Linked DNA regions of Homo sapiens. The protein of the gene in region 1 interacts with the protein of each later gene in a pairwise test. Each region holds a gene or a part of one and is shown in the gene's direction. Other genes may lie near its edges.

Region 1 (10,191 bases):
ATCCATCTAGACTTATTTCAAACTTAAAGGCTTTTGTTAAAACAATTTAATTAAGTTGAAAAGTGTTATTTAATTTAATTTATTTATATTTTATTTTCAGAAGAAAGGGGAGTAGTGTTGCTTTCTTGTACCAGCCTGCAGCTTACTGTCTTTTAAAGCATTATCTATATACTTACCCTTTCAAAACTAATGACAAAAATAATTGCTTATTGTTCTTATGCTTTTAGCTTTCTAGAAGAATAATTCCAAGAATATTAGAAATCTCCTTCTCTATTGACAATTTGTAGGCAAGTTACCAAAACAATTCATTTCAAAGGATAATTTGTAAAATACTTGGAATTGCATTAGAAACCACATAGAGGTATTACTTTGTATAATAAACTGTGAAATATGCGAAAATATTTGAGTGGGAGGCGTTGCAATTTAGTTTTCTGTTTTAAAACTTAATTCTTAAAGAGTAGTTATATGAAAGTATGTTATGAAATGAGTTGTACTTTGTTCAATTCAAGAAGTTTTAATTCCTATTTGCGTACCTAGCACATAATTTTTTTCTTGTAATGTGGGCGTGTTGGTGAAGTGGAGAGATGGTTGTCCTAGCATGTGGTTGCTGTGTGTACCTTCCCTTTTAAATATCTCAATGGCCTTTTTAAAAGGTGTTTCTTGCTTGAGTCCTTAATTGGCAGTGACTCCTGTAGAATCATTGTTTATAATTACCCTTAAAAATCTACTAATAGAAGGAATGTAAGTTTGTTACTGTACAGGTATACTTCATTTTATGTAATAATTTTATTTTCTGGAAAAAAAAAAAAGCCCTTAATCCGGTTGGGAAATCGGATGTATTGGGAGAACTTGTGTCTTTAAAAATTCTTCATTAGACCTTTCTGTTAATCAAATAATCAGTGGAAATTACTGTAATCTAATTTATCTGTTGGATTGGTTCAGGTTTTTGTGTTAGATTTTCTTAAAGTGAAGCATGCCTATAATAGATCCATATACTAAAAGAAATATTGAATTGGGACATTTTTGATATGGACAGTGTGAATTTTGTCACTTTAAATGTACTAGTTGTTAAAATTGCCTTAATTTTCTGTTTTGCCCTTTTAGATTACTTCCCAGATCTTAGCAGGTTCCTAATTCCATGTCTTCTGTTAGCATAACCACATGGTGTTGAACTGTGACCTTTGCAGGACTTGGGGAATCAGTGTGAGATCTTGAGATTGACTTGAGTTATAATCTAAGACTAAGTTAACTTTAATATTCTTGCTTAAATGACATCTCTCGTTGTGTTGAATATGCTTTCTTTTTACATGGGCTCTATTTCAGTTTTGATAACGGTTTGATTTTTATTTCTACACTTAAATGAATGCTATTATATATTTTTCTTTGTTTCACAAGAGAAATAATGTTTTCCTTTTTTTCCTCCTCATCTCTGTGCGTATTGCTTCCTGTCTGCGATTTGCTTACTACTTCTTATTGCAAGATCAAGCAGGTTGGTGTGATTGATTTGCACTCCACATGGTACAATTATTTATCCTATAAAGAACTATGTTATTTAAATACATTAAATTTTTAAAATTTAGTAGTTTTTTTACCAGGTAAGTATCTATCTTTTGTATTTTTAACAATCTTTCAACTTTAGCTTTTAAAAAGAACTTCATTTTTTTCCCTAAATTCTTAAAGACTCATTAAGCCAAAGTTTGGAAATACAAGTGTAAATTATTTCACATTCAAACATTTTTCTCCTTTTTTCTTAAAGCCAAGAATCAAATACCTGGTTATGCCGTGGTTGCTTATGTAATAAAAATGAAATTAATTCAATTAGGACTGCCCTGAAGTTCTTCCCCTTTGACTTACCCTGGCCGGTTAACGTTCACAATATTGGTTAGAGCACATGGCAAAGGGCAATAAAAAAATGTTGCTACTTATGTCTGGTTTAGTTAAATACTGTTTATGGCATTAACTTTTAAAAATATTTATTTACCTGAAATTTTGTGCTGAATTTTATCATGCATTGTTAGAAATAGATTTCTTTTTTGTTTGATTGGTTTAAGAAGGTTTTTTTAAAAAAAAGTCCTTTGAAAAATACATATAAAAGTGACTTTTACTGATGTCACATTTTTAAATACCTGGTTAGGAGAGTTAGCACATATTCACATTTAGCTTAAAATATTATTTGTGGAGAAATATAATGATTTGTCAGAGTGATTCTGGCTAAAGTAATATGTTACTTAAATATTAGGCTTTTGAAACTAACCCTGGCTATATATCTTTGATTGTCTTCATGAAAGTGTTACAAGACCACAATAAGATTTTTGCTGCTAAAGTATCAGTTTGGAAACATACCTGAATGGTTTTAAATTACTAATGTAATGCATTAATGCATGAACAGTTATGTGTCTTTGTATTTCCACATGTAAAATCTTTTTATTTAAAAAACTTTTTATTTTACTGCTTCTTAATGGGTTTTGAAACTGTTTTTAACTATTGAAACAATTAGAACCCTTGAAGCCTGTACATACTACTGTTCATATGTTGATTAGATCATTTCCTCTATACTGTTAGCATCAGTGTCTTCATGCATTTATTATTTTTGTCTTAACATATGTCCCATTTTGTCTTTAAATATTTATAATTCTCAGGTGGAAAGGAAGTTACACTTTTTTAAATGCGTATACTTACTATATACCTGAACTGATACTTTTCTCCTTCAAATTTCTAAGACATAGTATGACTGATGGGATAAGTAGTTTGGGAATAGTAGTTAAATTATTTTAAAGTTATTTTTTAACAGCTAATTCAAAAGATTCAATACAGATGACTGTGCCAAACAAGCCAGTAAATAGAATCAGTCTACATCCTGACTTTTGGAATGCAATGAATCACACCACACCAAAGCATGAATTTGGATCAGTGCTTTTATTTACTCTTTTATTTCATTTGTCTTGTGTCTTAGGTTTGCTCTGGACTTACAGTTCTATACAAATAATGTATTTTAAACCCTAGAGTTTTTTACATAATTTTGTCATAAAGAGTTAAAGCCTATTAATGATTCTTCATTTCATAGTTCCTGAAAAAATATACTCAGTTATATATCTCCATCATAATTATTTTTCAGTTCTTTTTCCTTGTTAGGTGGTGGGGGTTAGCTTTTGGGTGGAGACATTAACAATTTATACACTCTTATGATTTACACTCTTCTTCTGTAGTTCTTTGGGAAGGAAGTTAAGAATGACGGAAAGGTTCTAGGAGAGCCTCAGACCAATTCTGTGAAAAGTGTTATTGGTTTTCTGAAGGAATGTATGTTTCTAAGAAACTGTATGACCAGAAATGAATTGTCTTTGATTCAGTTTCATCACCAGTTTAATAAGCTAGTTTTATTTTCTCTTTTTCATTTGGATTTTGTTATTTTGAAATTCATTAATAAACTTTCTTTGAGCACCTATTACATGTATGTAAAATACTTTATTAGACATTATTAGCAAAAATAATCAATTGGAAGCCATATTCCAGCTTTATTATTTGGTAGTATTTCTACTTATATTTGACACTTGGCATGTTTACTCTGACTTAGGGAGCCTTCGGGTCCTGAGTTTGACATAATAACAAGCTATTTTAGTTGTTCCTTTAGTGTATGATGATATATCTTGACAGCTCAGCAACTGTGAAATGCTTGGTTAATTACTGTGTATGTAACTGTTACATAATTACATAGTATAGAATTTTTTCCTTTAAAAGTATGCTGTGAAATAAAATACTTTAATGTTATTAAACAAAAATTTTAGAAAAACTCTGAAAAATATATTAAAACTACTTGATGTAAATTCTGCCTGATATTTTCATCTGTGCATTTTATACCTATATATGACTTTTATTCACTTGTTTTATGTGAACTTGGGGAAGATATTTTAAGGAGTCGCTTGATTTTATACTTGGTTATCAGGAAAAAGTAACTGAAGAATCATGTTGCTTTTTTTTTAACCTATATTTGTTATCTGGGGACATATATATTTTTTAATTTGGCTTTCCTGTTAATCTTTCTTTTCCTATTATTTAGCTCATCTATTTTGCTTCTCTTTCGCTTTTGTTCTTAGTTATCATTGTACAATTGGACAACAGTTTGAATTTAGCAATGAGTTATAAAGTTCTAGGAGCATAATAAATGGAAATGCATGATATTATTGGTTTGATTTCCTTAAAATATTGATAATTGGTTTTGTATTATTGAGGAGTGTAGGCATTTCTATATTGAAGGAGGTAATTTATATAAGTCTGAAACATTGATTCATTTTAGTGATTGTTGCAATTAAATGATTCAAATAGGAAAAAAGAAAGTCTCCCCAGACAAGATGATTGAAATGCAAGCAAAAATTGATGAGGAGAGAAAAGCACTTGAAACAAAGCTCGACATGGAAGAAGAAGAAAGAAACAAGGCTAGAGCTGAATTAGAGAAACGGGAAAAAGATCTTCTTAAAGCCCAGTGAGTATTATTGAATTGAGATGAATTCATGATTTAAATTTCTGTTTTTTCCTAGGATATATAAAATAGGAAAATTGAATAGTAATTAAAAGCTTGGATTTTTGTCTCCAGTGTAGCTATTTTGGATAGAAGGGTCCATTGTATATAGTGTATTTCTAAAAACTAGATCTATTTTGGTTATTTTATTTCCGTGTGATAGGAAAACATATCAATGAATTAGAATGAGTTATAAATTAAGTTAGAAATCGATACTACACAGTGGTGTAATTTGGCAGAGATGTTACATAATTATATTTCTATTTTGAAATTGTATATCCAAATTTTAAATTTTGGGAAATGATATTAGTAGAATAATAGATCATCAGTGAATATAGAGTATTCTCATTCTAATCAACAGACAAGAGCATCAGTCTTTGCTGGAAAAATTATCTGCCCTGGAAAAGAAGGTAATTGTTGGTGGGGTTGACTTGTTGGCCAAAGCTGAGGAACAAGAGAAACTTCTTGAAGAATCTAACATGGAACTGGAAGAAAGGAGGAAAAGAGCAGAGCAACTTCGCAGAGAACTTGAGGAAAAAGAGGTAATGTGACTTTCTGTTTTTAGTTTGGTATTTTGCCAGAGAGATTTAACTTTTCTAGTGGAAAGCTAAATATCTATAATCGTATTGAAATTTTAAAGCATATTTATGGATTGCTTTGAAGATCAGATTTGCTAAACATTTATGTCATTTGTTAAAGAATTAGATATTTGATTTTACAAAGAAATTTATTCTGAAGTTTACTAATTTTTGTCATAGCAAGAACGCTTGGATATTGAAGAAAAATATACCAGTTTGCAAGAGGAAGCACAGGGAAAGACCAAGAAGTTAAAGAAAGTTTGGACTATGCTGATGGCTGCAAAGTCAGAGGTTGGTTCTCTTAGAAATTACCTACTAATGCAGTTCTGGATTTTTTAAAAGGGAGTTCTTTGATTAAGAATTTATAAATAATCATAATGTGAGCTTATAATTTAAAAGAAATAAAATATTTCTTTATGTGCAATTTTTAATTTTATCTATTAGTCTAAATTGTTTCTTTTCAACCTTAACAAATAGTGTAGAATAGATGCTGATAGTGTCACGCTGTTTATCATTTTTATAAAAGAACTAGGTAAGCTCTCACAAGGTTTCTTAGACAAGCATCCTATGTGAGATGGTGCTGTTTTGTAGTTAAAGTCTTGTTTGTTCATAATATTTTTATGGATTTTCTGGTAGATGGCTGATCTCCAACAAGAACATCAGAGGGAAATTGAAGGCCTACTGGAGAACATTCGGCAACTTAGCCGGGAGCTTCGACTTCAGATGCTTATTATTGATAACTTTATACCTCGGGATTATCAGGTAAAAAGGAAGTTCTCTGACCGAGATAGTCGCTTGACTGGGATTAAGGAACAAAGATTTCTAATTTAACTGATGATAAATACTTAATACTTCAGTTATTGAATGTACAATTTTTTGAACAAATGCCATCACATTTCACTTTAGTTGTTAACTTTTAATACATAATCTCTGTTTGAGTATCTAGCCTTTTAGACGAACTCAGATTCATGTATATGTGATCAGAATCAAGGTGTAGGTCCCATTCCTTCATTCAGCGCCCATTATCATACAAGTAGAATAAATGGAACCTCTGTGCTGCCTTTTTCTCCCTGCTGTGGGTGCTGATTCTTTGTGTGTGTGTGTGTATATGGTAAAATATAGATAACATGAAATTTACCATCTTAGCTATTTTAAGTGTGCAGTTCAATGGCATTTAGGACATTCACATTGTTGTGCAACCTGTACCATCATTCATCTCCAGATGGATGCTAATTCTTAGTACTAGTATAATTTTAAAATCTCAGCCTCTATTTTTTTTAATCCAAAATTTGTCTTTCCAGTGCATTTTGGTAAACTTTAACATGATTTTTTTTTTTTTTTTTTTTGTCAGGGAGACAGAGTCACTTTGTTGCCCAGGCTGGAGTGCAGTGGTGCAATCTCGGCTCCCTGCAACCTTCACTTCCCGGGTTCAAGTGATTCTCATGCCTCTGCCTCCCGAGTAGCTGGGATTACAGGCGTGTACCACCACACCCAGCTAATTTTTGTATATTTAGTAGAGATGGGGTTTAGCCATGTTGGCCAGGCTGGTCTTGAGTTCCTGAGCTCAGGTTGATCTGCCCGTTTTGGCCTCCCAAAATGATGGGATTACAGGTGTTAACCACCATGCCTGGCCAATTTTTTAAAAATCTGTTTTGAATCTCAATACAGTTTTAAGAAATTTGTCTGAAAATAAGTCTTAGTCATTTTTTTTTTTTTTGGACCTCAGGTACATGGAATTAGTCCTGGGTTCATGGTACATTCTCCTTATTGGTCCTTGGATGGCCTGCTTTTATTTAGTTATTTTGTAATGAACTCATCACCCAAAACAATATCTAGGACCCTGATAATAACTACTTCTAACCAGTTTCCCCTTCCCTTATTTCATTCCTTTGCCTCTTCCAACCCAAGGTAATCATTATCTTGATTCCCAAGTTTCTCATTCTGTTGTTTTTTCATTTTCATTTAGTTTTATTTCATCTGCATGCATTCCTAAGAAATATGTATTTTAGAATTTATAAAAAGGTTATATCAGTATATAATGTTTTGAGACTTTTATTACTCAATGTTATTAAGATTTTAGTTTTATGACTTCAATATTTTAGATGTTATTAAATATTAAAAATAGGCTATCTTTCACCCTTTTAAAAGGAAATGATTGAAAACTATGTCCATTGGAATGAAGACATAGGAGAATGGCAGCTAGTGAGTATTACCTTCATTCTTTCACGTAATAATTAAAGAGTACTTCCTATGGTCTAGAAATTGTGCTGGCTACAGTGGGGAGGAACATGGTCCAGTAGATGAATCAGATGAGAATCCAGTAGGGCAGATAAAATATTTTTCTAATTCCATGTAATTAATTGTAACATACAGATCATGGTCTGGGTGGAAATGGTCAGAGTTAGGGGCTATGTGGGACTAAGTGACCTCTGGGGCCCTTTCTGCTCTAGCATTCAAATCATGTTTTACTAGTGTAATGTTAGGATTTCTCAGTTATTTGCCTAACTCACAGTATTGATTACTAATTAAGACATTTCTCTGTCTCTCCCTTTTCTTTTTTTGAGAAATGTGTTGCTTATACAGGAAATAACATGAGGAAGCAAACCCCAGTACCTGATAAAAAGGAGAAAGATGTAAGAGTACTTAAAAAAAAACAAAACAAAACACAAAACTACTGTTGTTTCTTTATAGGAATATGAGTCATTAAATTGTATTATCAACTTGATATCTGTTAATCAGCTCTGCTGAAAAATGGGCTGATACTTTTGGGAATAAAGGCTCTAGGATGGGGTGATGAGGAGGACAGTTCTGCTTACCATCAGTCTTGATGTCAGGCTTATTCCCACCACAAGAGGGGCATGGACTCACTCTTTGGAGTCCTCTTTTCACTACCACTCTGGGTCGTAGGATTATGGGTGGAGACTAGAATGTGTCTTTCTTTCTCTTCAAAGCTAGTTCTAGTCCTAGGTCAAGAAGAAGAGGGAGCGGGCCGGGCGTGGTGGCTCACGCCTGTAATCCCAGCACTTTGGGAGGCCGAGGCGGGTGGATCACGAGGTCAGGAGATCAAGACCATCCTGGCTAACACAGTGAAACCCCGTCTCTACTAAAAAAATACAAAAAAAATTAGCCGGGCGTGGTGGCGGGTGCCTGTAGTCCCAGCTACTCAGGAGGCTGAGGCAGGAGAATGGCGTGAACCCAGGAGGTGGAGCTTGCAGTGAGCCCAGATCGCGCTACTGCACTCCAGCCTGGGCGACAGAGTGAGACTCCGTCTCAAAAAAAAAAAAAAAAGAAGAAGAAGAGGGGGCAGCTTTAAGAAAAACAGCAACAGTTTTTATGTCCAAGGAAATTTATAGTGTGTCAGGGCTTCTTACTCACCAACCTTTATTAAGTACATTTTAGATACTGGGATTAGAAGATGATGTCATTAGACATTTCTTTGGTTTTAGCTTCTGTGGGTTTGATCAAGGAGTTTATTCAGTATTTTAAATCTTCCCCCAAATCTGGCTTTAACTCTTTGCCTTAAGAGTGCTTTGTGTTTGTTTCTTTTACTTAGCCCTTTGAGGTGGACCTTTCTCACGTGTATCTTGCCTATACTGAGGAGAGTCTGCGTCAGTCTTTGATGAAACTAGAAAGACCACGAACTTCAAAGGGGAAAGCAAGGCCAAAGACAGGGAGAAGGTAAGGACTGTCCTTGAATCTGGTAAAACGAAGGCATTGAGGTATTCTAATTAGATACATGTACAGGAAGTTAAAATTTATTTAGTTAAAACATGATACATATTTTGGCTGATTTATTAAAAATCAAATTCCTGGCTGGGCACAGTGGCTCACGCCTGTAATCCCAGCATTTTGGGAGGCCGAGGCAGGTGGATCATTTGAGGTCAGGAGTTTGAGACCAGCCTGGCTAACATAGTGAAACGCTGTCTCTACTAAAAATACAAAAGTTAACCAGGCATGGTGGCGCATGCCTGTAATCCCAGCTACTGGGGAGGCTGAGGCATGAGAATCGCTTGAACCCAGGAGCCGGAGGTTGCAGTTAGCCGAGATCATGAGATCATGCCACTGAACTTCAGCCTGGGTGACAGAGCAAGACTTGGTCTCAAAAAAAAAAAAAAAAAATCAAATTCCTTATGTATTAGAATTTGAGTAAATAAAATCTGGCCAAAGAATTAAGGTCTTCCAACTTCTTAGGCTTCTGAGTAATAGAATTTATTTTTAATTCACTCTGTTATTTCCAAATGTATAATGGGTTTAATTCCTTAATTCTTAGACTAATTCTTCTTATGAAATGCTAATTAATTTGCCTGTTTGGTCTCCCAAGGTATTGTATTCAGCTGGTTAGTTTTTCTGTCAGGTGCCCCAAGAACCTTGATTTCCTCAGTCACCAGCTAAGGAGAACTTCCTTGGACATTTCCCCCTCTCCTTTGGGCACTGGTTTTGACTGTTGGGTAGTCTGCGTGTATCATCACATAAGCTCAGGGAAATCGGGATATGGGAGTCCTGGGCTGGAGCTTATTTTTTTTTCCTTTCCCTTTCCTACATCAAGGACTGTTCAGTTTATTTAAGCTGATTTTAAGACTCTGGGGCTCCTAAAATGTAGGAAATAATAAGCTGCTTTTTTCCCTACTTTGAGTGCATGGACTTTCAAGTTACATGTGGGATGAAGTTGTACGGTTTTGATATCTTTGTGTTACATAATCTCATAGACATGACTTAACACTTATAAATTTGGGATGGTTGAACTCAGGGTTGGGCAAACAGTTGAATATTAAAAATGTACAAATTTTTACATTCTTTAGCATTTAGGTGAGGGGTTAAAAACTTTCCTATACCAACACATGCCAAGCATATTGTAGTGAAGCAAATCAGTTCTAAGAAACATGAGTCCCTTTAGATGTATCTTTTTTTCCATTTTTAATAAAATGACAGTGCAAGTGTGATGATAAATGGTAAGACATTTGTCCCCAGCGTAGGAGAAAAATTGGCAGTGGTGAGCAGTCCTGTCTAAAGTGAGTGGCTGCTATTCTCTTCCTAGTTATCTATGGAAATAGAGGGCTCATTGTTTCTGGATCTTCTGTTTTCTTTTCTTTTCTTTTTTTT
Region 2 (10,191 bases), on another chromosome or scaffold:
TAAATTAATTTTTATAAAAGGAAGTAAATAAAAACTCCTTTGGAGGCCGGGTGCGGTGGCTCACGCCTGTAATCCCAGCACTTTGGGAGGCCCAGGTGGGTGAATCCCTTGACACCAGGAGTTTGAGACCAGCCTGGCCAACATGGTGAAATCCCACCTCTACTAAAAATACAAAAATTCGGCCAGGCGCGGTGGCTCACGCCTGTAATCCTGGCACTTTGGGAGGCCGAGGTGGGTGGTTCACTTGAGGCCAGGAGTTCATTCAGGACTAGCCTGGCCAACATGGTGAAACCCCATCTCTACTAAAAATACAAAAATTAGCCAGGCATGGTGGTGGGTGCCTGTAGTCCTAGCTACTCAGGAGGCTGAGGCAGGGGAATTGCTTGACTGCAGGAGGCAGAGGTTGAGATGGCGCCGTTGCACTCCAGCCTGGGTGACAGAGCAAGACTCCATCTGAAAAAAAATACTTAAAAATAAAAGCTCCTTTGACTGTTAGGTAGAGACAGCCAATGATGGGTCTGTTGCTGTCACCAGTGAGAGTTGATGGTGGCCATGGAGACTTTCAACCCAGGACCTTCTGCTTGGTTGGAGCCAAACCTGGGTCTCCCCATTTACTGTTCCCGTCAATTCCCAGCTGAGGCTCCAGATTGTCCAAGCAGCAAATTAATGGGTATGGGACTGAGACAGATCAGACAGGAAGTCTCCAGCTCAGCCTAGAGCAGAGCAGCCCTTTGGGAGAATTTCCAACTGGCTGTACATCAGGCGTTCATTTGTGCTACCTTTTTTTTTTTTTTTTTTTTTTTTGGGACAGAGTCTCACTCTGCCGCCCAGGCTGGAGTGCAATGGCACAATCTCAGCTCACTGCACCCTCCTCCTCCCAGATTCAAGTGATTCTTGTGCCTCAGCCTCCCGAGTAGCTGAGATTATAGGCATGCACTGGCTAATTTTTATATTTTTAGTGGAGACAGGGTTTCACCATGTTGGCTAGGCTGGTCTTGAAGTCCTGACCTCAGGTGATCCGCCCGCCTCAGCCTCCTAGAGTGCTGGGATTACAGGCATGAGTCACTGCACCCGGCCGGGCAGGCTAATTCTTTCTGATGTGGTCCTGTCCTGTACTTAGCAGGATGCAGGATATCCACACCTCCCCGCCATAAACTTCAGTAACATTCTCAGTCATTATTACAATCACAGTAACCCCATAGGTTTCCAAGGACATGGGAGAGAGGGGTGGATCATGCTACCCTCCAGTTATAAACCACTGTTTCTCCCCCACCTTGTATGGTCTCCATTCTGAAGTTTACTTCATGATCCAAAATGACTGCTTGAGCTCCAGCGTTTTTTGTTTTTTTTTTTTTTTTGAGCTGGAGTCTTGCTCTGTCGCCCAGGCCGGAGTACAGCGGCGCGATCTTGGCTCACTGAAACCTCTGCCTCCTGGGTTCAAGCAATTATCCTGCCTCAGCCTCCCAAGTAGCTGGGACTACAGGCACATGCCACCAGGCCCAGCTAATTTTTGTATTATTTATTTATTTTTTTTAATTTTTCAGTAGAGACGGGGTTTCACCATATTGGCCAGGACAGCCTTGATCTCTTGACCTCATGATCTGCCCACCTGGGCCTCCTAAAGTGCTGGGATTACAGGCGTCAGCCACCGCACCCAGCCTTTTTTTTTTTTTTTTTTTTAACAGGGTCTTGCTCTGTCACCCAGGCTGGAGTGCAGTGATGCCGTCACAAATCATTGCAGCCTCAACCTCCTGGGCTCAAGTGATCCTCCCACCTCAGCCTCTCTAGTAGCTGGGACTACAGGCATGCCACCACACCAGGCTAATTTTTTGTAGAGACGAGGTCTCACTTTGTTTCCTACGCTGGTCTCGATCTCTTGGGCTCAAGAGGTCCTCTTGTCTTGGCCTCCCAAAGTGCTGACATTACAGGCGTGAGCCACTGTGCCTAGCTCCACACGCCAGCTTTTTTTTTTTTTTTTTTTTTAATTTTAAGTTCTGGGATACATGTGCAGAACGTGCAGGGTTTGTTACATAGGTATACATGTGCCATGGTAGTTTGCTGCACCCATCAACCCATCATCTAGGTTTGAAGCCCCGCGTGTGTCAGGTATTTGCCTAATGCTCTCCCTCCCCTTGTCCCCCACCCCCCAGGCTCCAGGTTTTATGTCTACATTCCAACCACAAGAAGGGGAAAAAAGGAAAATGGCACCCCTTCTTTTTATTTTTTGAGACGTAGTCTCACTCTGTCTTCCAGGCTGGAGTTCAGTGGCACGATCTCAGCTCACTGCAAGCTCCGCCTCCTGGGTTCACGCCATTCTCCTGCCTCAGCCTCCCGAGTAGCTGGGACTACAGGCGCCCGCCACCACGCCTGACTAATTTTTTGTATTTTTAGTAGAGACGGGGTTTCACCGTGCTAGCCAGGATGGTCTCAATCTCCTGACCTTGTGATCCGCCCGCCTCGGCCTCCCAAAGTGCTGGGATTACAGGCGTGAGCCACCGCGCCCGGCCTCATTTTCTTACCCATGTTGTTTTTGTTCCTGCGCTCCTGTGCCTGTCTGCTGTGCTGAGCTGCAGATGTGTCCTGCCGCGGCTTCGCAGGACAGGGATAAGTTGAGACAGGAAGCAAGAAGCCTTGCCTGTCAGGCTGCCCTTGGCATGACTAGAGTGTATGTGGGGATTTTCACCTCTTATTTTGGGGTCCATTCTGTTCCTTCTTTGAACAATAGTCTTTACAGGATAGGGTGTTTGGGGACAGATTTCATCTTATTTAAGATATAAATAATATAAAATTAACCCACTATAAATTTATTTTTCATTTAAAAAAATTTTTAAAAGACAGGCTCTCACTCTCCCACGCAGGCTAGAATGTGGTGGTATAGTCATAGCTCACTGCAGCCTTGAACTCTTGGGCTCAAGCCATCATCCCACCTCACACTCTTTCCCGGCCGGGCACCCCTTCTTTTTGAGGATACTTCCTGGAAGCTAGTTGCCTACTACACCCCCTCCTACATCCCATGTACCAGAACTGTGGTCATGTGGCATGCTTAGCTGCAAAGGAGAATGGAAAATTCATGCAGGCAGCATGTGGCCAGCTCAATTCACCAGCACTGTCACTGAAGAATGGGAGGCTGTCAGCTGCATATGGGGGCAGTGATTGTGTCTATCTCTTCCCAATGTCTAAAATGGTGCTTGGCACACAGTAGGCACTTAATAAGTATACGTTGAATGGGCCGGGCGCAGTGGCTCATGCCTGTAATCCCAGCACTTTGGGAGGCTGAGGCAGGCGGAACCTGAGGTCAGGAGTTGGAGACCAGCCTGGCCAACATGGTGAAACCCCATCTCTACTAAAAATACACAAATTAGCTGGGATGGTGGTGCACATCTGTAATCCCAGCTACTTGGGAGGCTGAGGCACAAGAATCACTTGAACCCAAGAGGCGGAGGTTGCAGGGAGCCGAGATCATGCCACTGCACTCCAGCCTGGGTGACAGAGACTTTGTCTCAAAAAAAAAAAAGGATATGTTGAATGAATGCATGAGTGGATAGTGGGGAGACCAGGGATCTACTCCAGGATAAACACCACACAGAATGGCCATCAGGATCTGGGAGGATGTAGAGTTTGCAGAGGAAGATAGCCTTGCAGGGACCACAGCACAGTGACGCACGCTCTGGTACCATGGAGCCACTGAGAGCACTGTCGTGGGCAGCAGGCAGACCTGAGTCCAAGTGTGGCTCCACCACTCACTAGCTGTGTGACCTTGGGCAAGCCCCTTACCTCTCTGAGCGTGTACCTGCTCATCAGCTAAAGCAGGGGTCATACCAAATCCTTCTGCCTTACAGGGCTGTTGTGAGGATTACCGAGTGCCTAGCACAGTGCCTGGCCTGCAGTAAGTGCTTTATAAATGTTAAATAATGTTAACTGGTTTTTAGAGGTAAGTGCTGAGTGTTTTGGGGAAACGTAGAGGAGGGGCCTCTAACCTAGCTTTGGAGGCTGTGGAATCAAGGAAGGCTTCCTGACAGAGGGGGCAACCTGTGTTGAGACTTGAGGGACAAATAGTTACACAAGGGAAGAGTGTTCTCCACAAAGGGAACAGCATGTGTGAAGGCCAGAGGTTAGAAAGCACAGGGCCTGCTCAGTATTCAGTGTGGCTGCAAGATGAAGTTGGGGTTAGAATGGGCTGAGAGTGTTTGGAAGTGAGGCTGCAGGGGTCATCAAAGGCCAGGGCCAAGAAGGATGGATTTAGGTGGGATGCAGTGGCTCATGCCTGTAATCCCAGCACTTTGGGAAGCCCAGGCAGGAGGATCACTTGAGCCCAGGAGTTTGAGACCAGCCTGGGCAACATAGTGAGACCTCCATCTCTACAAAAATAAAAATAAGAAAGATGGATTTGGCCAGTAGGAACACGGGACCTGAAGATTTTCAGGCAGGGGAGAGGGAAGACAGGCCGAGCAAAGGAGAGACATCAGAGAGCCAAACCCACCCCATCTATTGGAGAACAAGGCCATGGAGGTCAAAGCAAGTTCTTGTGACCTCATTGGCCGGGGGTGGCTGTTGGGGTGAGGGCAGCCCTGCATGGGACCAAGGGCAGGGCTGGGTATAGGTGAGGATTGGGGTGGGCTGCGACATCACCCCTCCCTCTCCCCTGCCTGCAGCTTCGGGGTGCTGCTGTGGGAGCTGCTGACGGGGGAGGTCCCCTACCGTGAGATCGACGCCTTGGCCGTGGCGTATGGCGTGGCTATGAATAAGCTGACGCTGCCCATTCCCTCCACGTGCCCCGAGCCCTTTGCCCGCCTCCTGGAGGGTGAGCCGGGGCCCCGTGACGAGGGTAGGCTCAGCTTGGAGTGGCAGGGACCTGTGGGCCCAGACCTTTCCCCTTCACACCTATCCATACCAGTGGGCCCAGGAGTGAGGAAGAAGGGGCTGGAACCCACTGGACTCTAAACAGCCTCCCCATGGTTGGCTCCATCCCCCACATCCCAGCCCTTGTTTGGGCCAGGCCCAGAGCTCTCAGGACAACCTGTTAGGATTCCTTGGCCCTGGGATTCCACCTTGATCCTGATTCCACTACCAGCCCCTCCTCGGGGTGCAGGTCCCAGGGTTTCTCTCCCAGCGTTTCACTGAGTGGAATTGGCCAGGAGCTTGGCTTTGAATCCCTTCCCCTCAGCTCCATAGCAGCTGTTTGTCTGCCATCCCCAGAAATTCTGCCTTCCTCTGAGCAGGCTGAGTCCCCAGAGCATGACCACTGACACCTCCATGCCCCACCACTGTCCTTCCTCCTCCCACCCCAGAATGCTGGGACCCAGACCCCCACGGGCGGCCAGATTTCGGTAGCATCTTGAAGCGGCTTGAAGTCATCGAACAGTCAGCCCTGTTCCAGATGCCACTGGAGTCCTTCCACTCGCTGCAGGAAGACTGGAAGCTGGAGATTCAGCACATGTTTGATGACCTTCGGACCAAGGAGAAGGTGAAGGCAGGGGGCAAGGTGGGAAAGATGGAGCAAGACCCCTGAGTTCTGATGCCTTGGGCTGCTCAGAGACTCCTCCCCTGAACCCCAGCCTTTGGGTCCATGCAGGGTCAAGGGAGCCTTTTTTGCATATTAAGAAAAGACAGCCTCCTGTTGGTGGATTAATAAGAAAAAGGCACCCTGTACTGAAGTACTTACAGGTGACACTGCATGATGTCTGGGGTTGGCTTTAAAATACTACAGCAGAAACGAAGAGAGGGCAAGAGGAGAGAAGGACGGGGATACAAGATTCGCAAAGCATAGGTAATTGTTGAAATTGGATGATGGGTACAGGGGGGTGCACTGTTCTCTGCTTTTGTGGATGTTTGAAGTTTTCTAAATTGAAGAGTTAAGAAAGAAAAAGAAAGAAAAAGCACCCCTTTCTTTGAGCTAACACAGTTCCCTGCCCTGGCACCCAGCTTGGCTAGCAAAGCATGAGTCGGGTGGTGAAACCAGTGTACCCCACAGCAAGGTACCCTTGTGTGAGGCACCAACCAGACGCAGCAGCCCTGGGTCCCTCCCCAGGAAGCAGAGCAGCTAAGCCCCTCCCCCCAGCCACCGCCTCTCCTTCCCAGGAGCTTCGGAGCCGTGAGGAGGAGCTGCTGCGGGCGGCACAGGAGCAGCGCTTCCAGGAGGAGCAGCTGCGGCGGCGGGAGCAGGAGCTGGCAGAACGTGAGATGGACATCGTGGAACGGGAGCTGCACCTGCTCATGTGCCAGCTGAGCCAGGAGAAGCCCCGGGTCCGCAAGCGCAAGGGCAACTTCAAGCGCAGCCGCCTGCTCAAGCTGCGGGAAGGCGGCAGCCACATCAGCCTGCCCTCTGGTACCCACCCGTGTCCCCAGAGCGCCCCCCAAGAGGCTGCTGGGAGCAGCCCCGACCTAGGATTTATCTCTTCCTTTTCTTTTTCAACTTGTTTTTATTGCTAAATATATCGCACATAGTCAGTGATCAGCCCAGTGCAGTGGCGAGCACTTGTAGTCCCAGCCTACTCAGGAGGCCAAGGTGGGAGGATCACTTGAGGCCAGAAGTTTGAGACCAGCCTGGGCAACATAGACCCCATATTTACCAAAAAAAAAAAAAATTTTTTTTAATTAGCTGGCCACGTTGGCATGCACTTATAGTCCAAGCTAGTGGGGAGGCTGAGGTGGGAGGATCACTTGAGTCCAGGAGTTCGAGGCTGCAGTGAGCTGTAATTGCACCACTGCACTCCAGTCTGGGCAGCAGAGCAAGACCCTATCTCTAAAGGGAAGAAGAAGAAAAAAAGAAAATGACCAAAAACCTGTACAGCCAAATGAGTTACTCTAGTCACCCCCATGAAAGCAGAGAGAACCTCACAGCCATCCCAAGTGCTTTCTACCTGCCCCTCCAGACAACCTCACACCATCCCCTGAGAGGAACATCTGTCTTGACACTTAGGACAGTCACTTCTGAACTTTCTTTTTCATGTTATCTCTCTTTAAAAATATCTTTTAATCTGGCCAGGTGCAGTGGCTCACGCCTGTAATCCCAGCATTTTGGGAGGCCAAAGTGCGTAGATCACTTGAGGCTAGGAGTTCTAGAGCAGCCTGGCTCTAGAACATGGTGAAATCCCGCCTCTACTAAAACTACAAAATTAGCTGGGTGTGGTGGTGCACACGCCTGTAATCTCAGTTACTTGGGAGGCTGAGGCACAAGCATCGCTTGAACCCGGAAAGCAGAGGTTGCAGTGAGCCGAGATTGTGCCACTGCACTCCAGCCTGGGTGACAGAGTGAGACTCTGTCACAAAATATATAATTAAGATATACATATATATGCTGATATTTGACCATTTTTTTACCTACAAAAACAGAAGTTTCACATGGATCAACCTAATAGTTGGATCTCAAGACTTAATCAGATTCAGATTCAGGTTTGATTTTTTTTTTCCCCACACTGCTTCCCAGGTAATGCATTCAGGAGGGAGGCACGTAGTGTCTACTTGTCTCTTTCTGTGATGTTACAAGCCAGAAAGCAGTGCCTTAAGCAGCAGTGGCCAGTGGAAATATAATACAAGCCACGTGTATAATTTTAAATTTTCTAGTAAGCTACACATAAAAGCAAAAAGAAATAAGAGATGTCAATTTTAATATTTTTTATTAGGCCAGGTGGGGTGGCTCACGTCTGTAATCCCAGCACTTTTTGGGGCTAAGACGGGCAGATCACCTGAGGTCAGGAGTTTGAGACCAGCCTGACCAACATGGAGAAACCCCATCTCTACTAAAACTACAAAATTAGCCGGGCGTGGTGGCGCATGCCTGTAATCCCAGCTACTCAGGAGGCTGAGGCAGGAGAATCGCTTGAACCTGGGAGGCAGAGGTTGCAGTGAGCCGAGATCGCGCCATTGTACTCCAGCCTGGGCGACAAGAGCAAAACTCCATCTCAAAAAATATATATATTTTTTAATTTAGCCCAATATATCCATGCAATCAATACAAAATAATTGTGAGATATTTTACCTTCTTTTTTCACACTAAATCTTTGAAATCCAGATGTATTTTATATTTATGGCACATCTAAATTTGGACAGTAAATTTTCATTAAAAATTTTTTTTTTTCTGAGATGGGGTCTTGCTATATTGCCCAGGGTGGTCTTGAACTCCTGCGCTCAGGCAGCGCTCCCACTTTGGCCTCCCAAAGTGCTGGGATTACAGGTGTGAGCTACTGTACCTGACCCATCAAAAATATTGGATCTGTATTTAGATTTCATAAAAGTTAGAGTTGAAAAAGTACATATACATACCCAAGTTGCTCCAAACATGCTTAAATGTTTCCAATAACCAAATGGAGTACCTGTTTTTTGTTGTTTGTTTTTTTGTTTTTGTTTTTGTTTTTTTTGAGATGGAGCCTCGCTCTGTCACCCAGGCTGGAGTGCAGTGGCATGATCTCGGCTCACTGCAAGCTCTGCCTCCCAGGTTCATGCCATTCTCCTGCCTCAGCCTCCTGAATAGCTGGGACTACAGGCACCCGCCACCACGCCTGGCTCTTTCTTTCTTTTTTTTTTTTTTTTTTTTTTTTGTATTTTTAGTAGAGACAGGGTTTCACCGTGTTAGCCAGGATGGTCTCAATCTCCTGACCTCGTGATCCGCCTGCCTCGGCCTCCCAAAGTGCTGGGATTACAGACATGAGCCACCGCGCCCAGCCCCCATACCTGTTTTTAAAATTTAAACTCAAATTGCGGTAATTACAATAAAATAAAGAGTTGGCTGGGCATGGTGGCTCACACCTGTAATCCCAGCACTTTGGGAGGCGGATGCTGGAGGATTGCTCGAGGCCAAGAGTTCAAGACCAGCCTGGTCACCACAGTGAGAACTCATCCTTTATATATATATATATATACAGTTTAAAAATTAGATAAATAAAGGTTAAACTCCAATTCCCCCATTGCACAAGCCACATTTCAAGGTGCTCAGCTGCTACACGTAGCTACTGGCGGCCATATTGGACACTGAGGCCTAGGTCCTTGATCCACAAGAGCTCTTGTGCTTGTACTTATTAAACCACAGTCCATTGCTGAGCCTCACCCCAACTTGCTGATTCAGGGAGGGCCCAAGAATTTGCATTGCCAAGAAATTTTCAGCTGATGGTGATGCTGCTGTTCTGGGGCCCACACTCTGAGAACCACTGCATTAAGGAATGAAAAATGGCGGTGTTCCCATTCTAGAATTCCTTCTCTACTTCTACAGAAGAAAATTCCCTTTGGTAATCCCTGGAACCATTTGCTTAGGAAAGCTTCTCTTTCTTTCTGCAGGCTTTGAGCATAAGATCACAGTCCAGGCCTCTCCAACTCTGGATAAGCGGAAAGGATCCGATGGGGCCAGCCCCCCTGCAAGCCCCAGCATCATCCCCCGGCTGAGGGCCATTCGCCGTGAGTATCTCCCAAGGCCCTGACCAGTCAGTCAGTCAGTGAACAAACATTTTTTAGCACGATGTTTATACCTGGCACCAAGCCAGAGTAACAGCAAGAAAGAAGACAGACAAGGCCCTTTTCCTCATTCTTATCACAGGAAACAGATAGTAAACAAATAAGTCAGTAAGCAGGATAATTTCTTTTTTTTTTTTTTCTTTTTTTTTGGAGACAGACAGAGTCTCGCTCTATCTCCCAGGCTGGAGTGCAGTGGTGCAATCTTAGCTCACTGCAACCTCCGCCTCCTGGGTTCCAGCGATTCTCCTGCCTCAGCCTCCCGAGTAGCTGTGGTTACAGTCACACATGACCACGCCTGCCTAATTTTTTGTATTTTTAATAGAGATGGGGGTTTCACCATGTTGGCCAGGCTGGTATCGAACTCCTGACCTCAAGTGATCCACCCACCTCAGCCTCACAAAGTGCTGGGATTACAGCATGAGCCACCGCGCCCGGGCGCAGGATAATTTCTAGTAGTGATAAGTTCTTTAAAGGAGCTCAGGGAAGGGAATAAAAGAGGAGATGTATTAATCGGAGTTCTTCAGAGAAACAGAATCAACAGCATATGTTTAGATATATAGAAAGAGATGTATTGGCTGGGCACGATGACTCATACCTGTAATCCCAGCACTTTGGGAGGATGAAGTGGGAGGATTGCTTGAGCCTAGGAGTTCGACACCAGCCTGGGCAACAAAGCGAGACCCCATCTCTACTTAAAAACAAAAACAAAGGCCAGGCGCGGTGGCTCACGCCTGTAATTCCAGCACT

The links.
Region 2: the proteins of KIF3A (region 1) and MAP3K10 interact in a two-hybrid assay, tested with the Homo sapiens proteins (one study listed by BioGRID).

The regions. Positions count from the first base shown.
Region 1 is NC_000005.10:132,697,749-132,707,939, reverse strand, and holds part of KIF3A (kinesin-like protein KIF3A), read left to right. Parts: intron 1-1,480; coding exon 1,481-1,489; intron 1,490-4,320; coding exon 4,321-4,477; intron 4,478-4,874; coding exon 4,875-5,055; intron 5,056-5,271; coding exon 5,272-5,382; intron 5,383-5,727; coding exon 5,728-5,853; intron 5,854-7,239; coding exon 7,240-7,293; intron 7,294-7,655; coding exon 7,656-7,724; intron 7,725-8,644; coding exon 8,645-8,769; intron 8,770-10,191. UniProt on the Homo sapiens protein: Microtubule-based anterograde translocator for membranous organelles. Plus end-directed microtubule sliding activity in vitro. Plays a role in primary cilia formation. Plays a role in centriole cohesion and subdistal appendage organization and function.
Region 2 is NC_000019.10:40,199,833-40,210,023, forward strand, and holds part of MAP3K10 (mitogen-activated protein kinase kinase kinase 10), read left to right. Parts: intron 1-4,652; coding exon 4,653-4,801; coding exon of another isoform or gene 4,802-4,825; intron 4,826-5,288; coding exon 5,289-5,464; intron 5,465-6,078; coding exon 6,079-6,325; intron 6,326-9,270; coding exon 9,271-9,387; intron 9,388-10,191. UniProt on the Homo sapiens protein: Activates the JUN N-terminal pathway.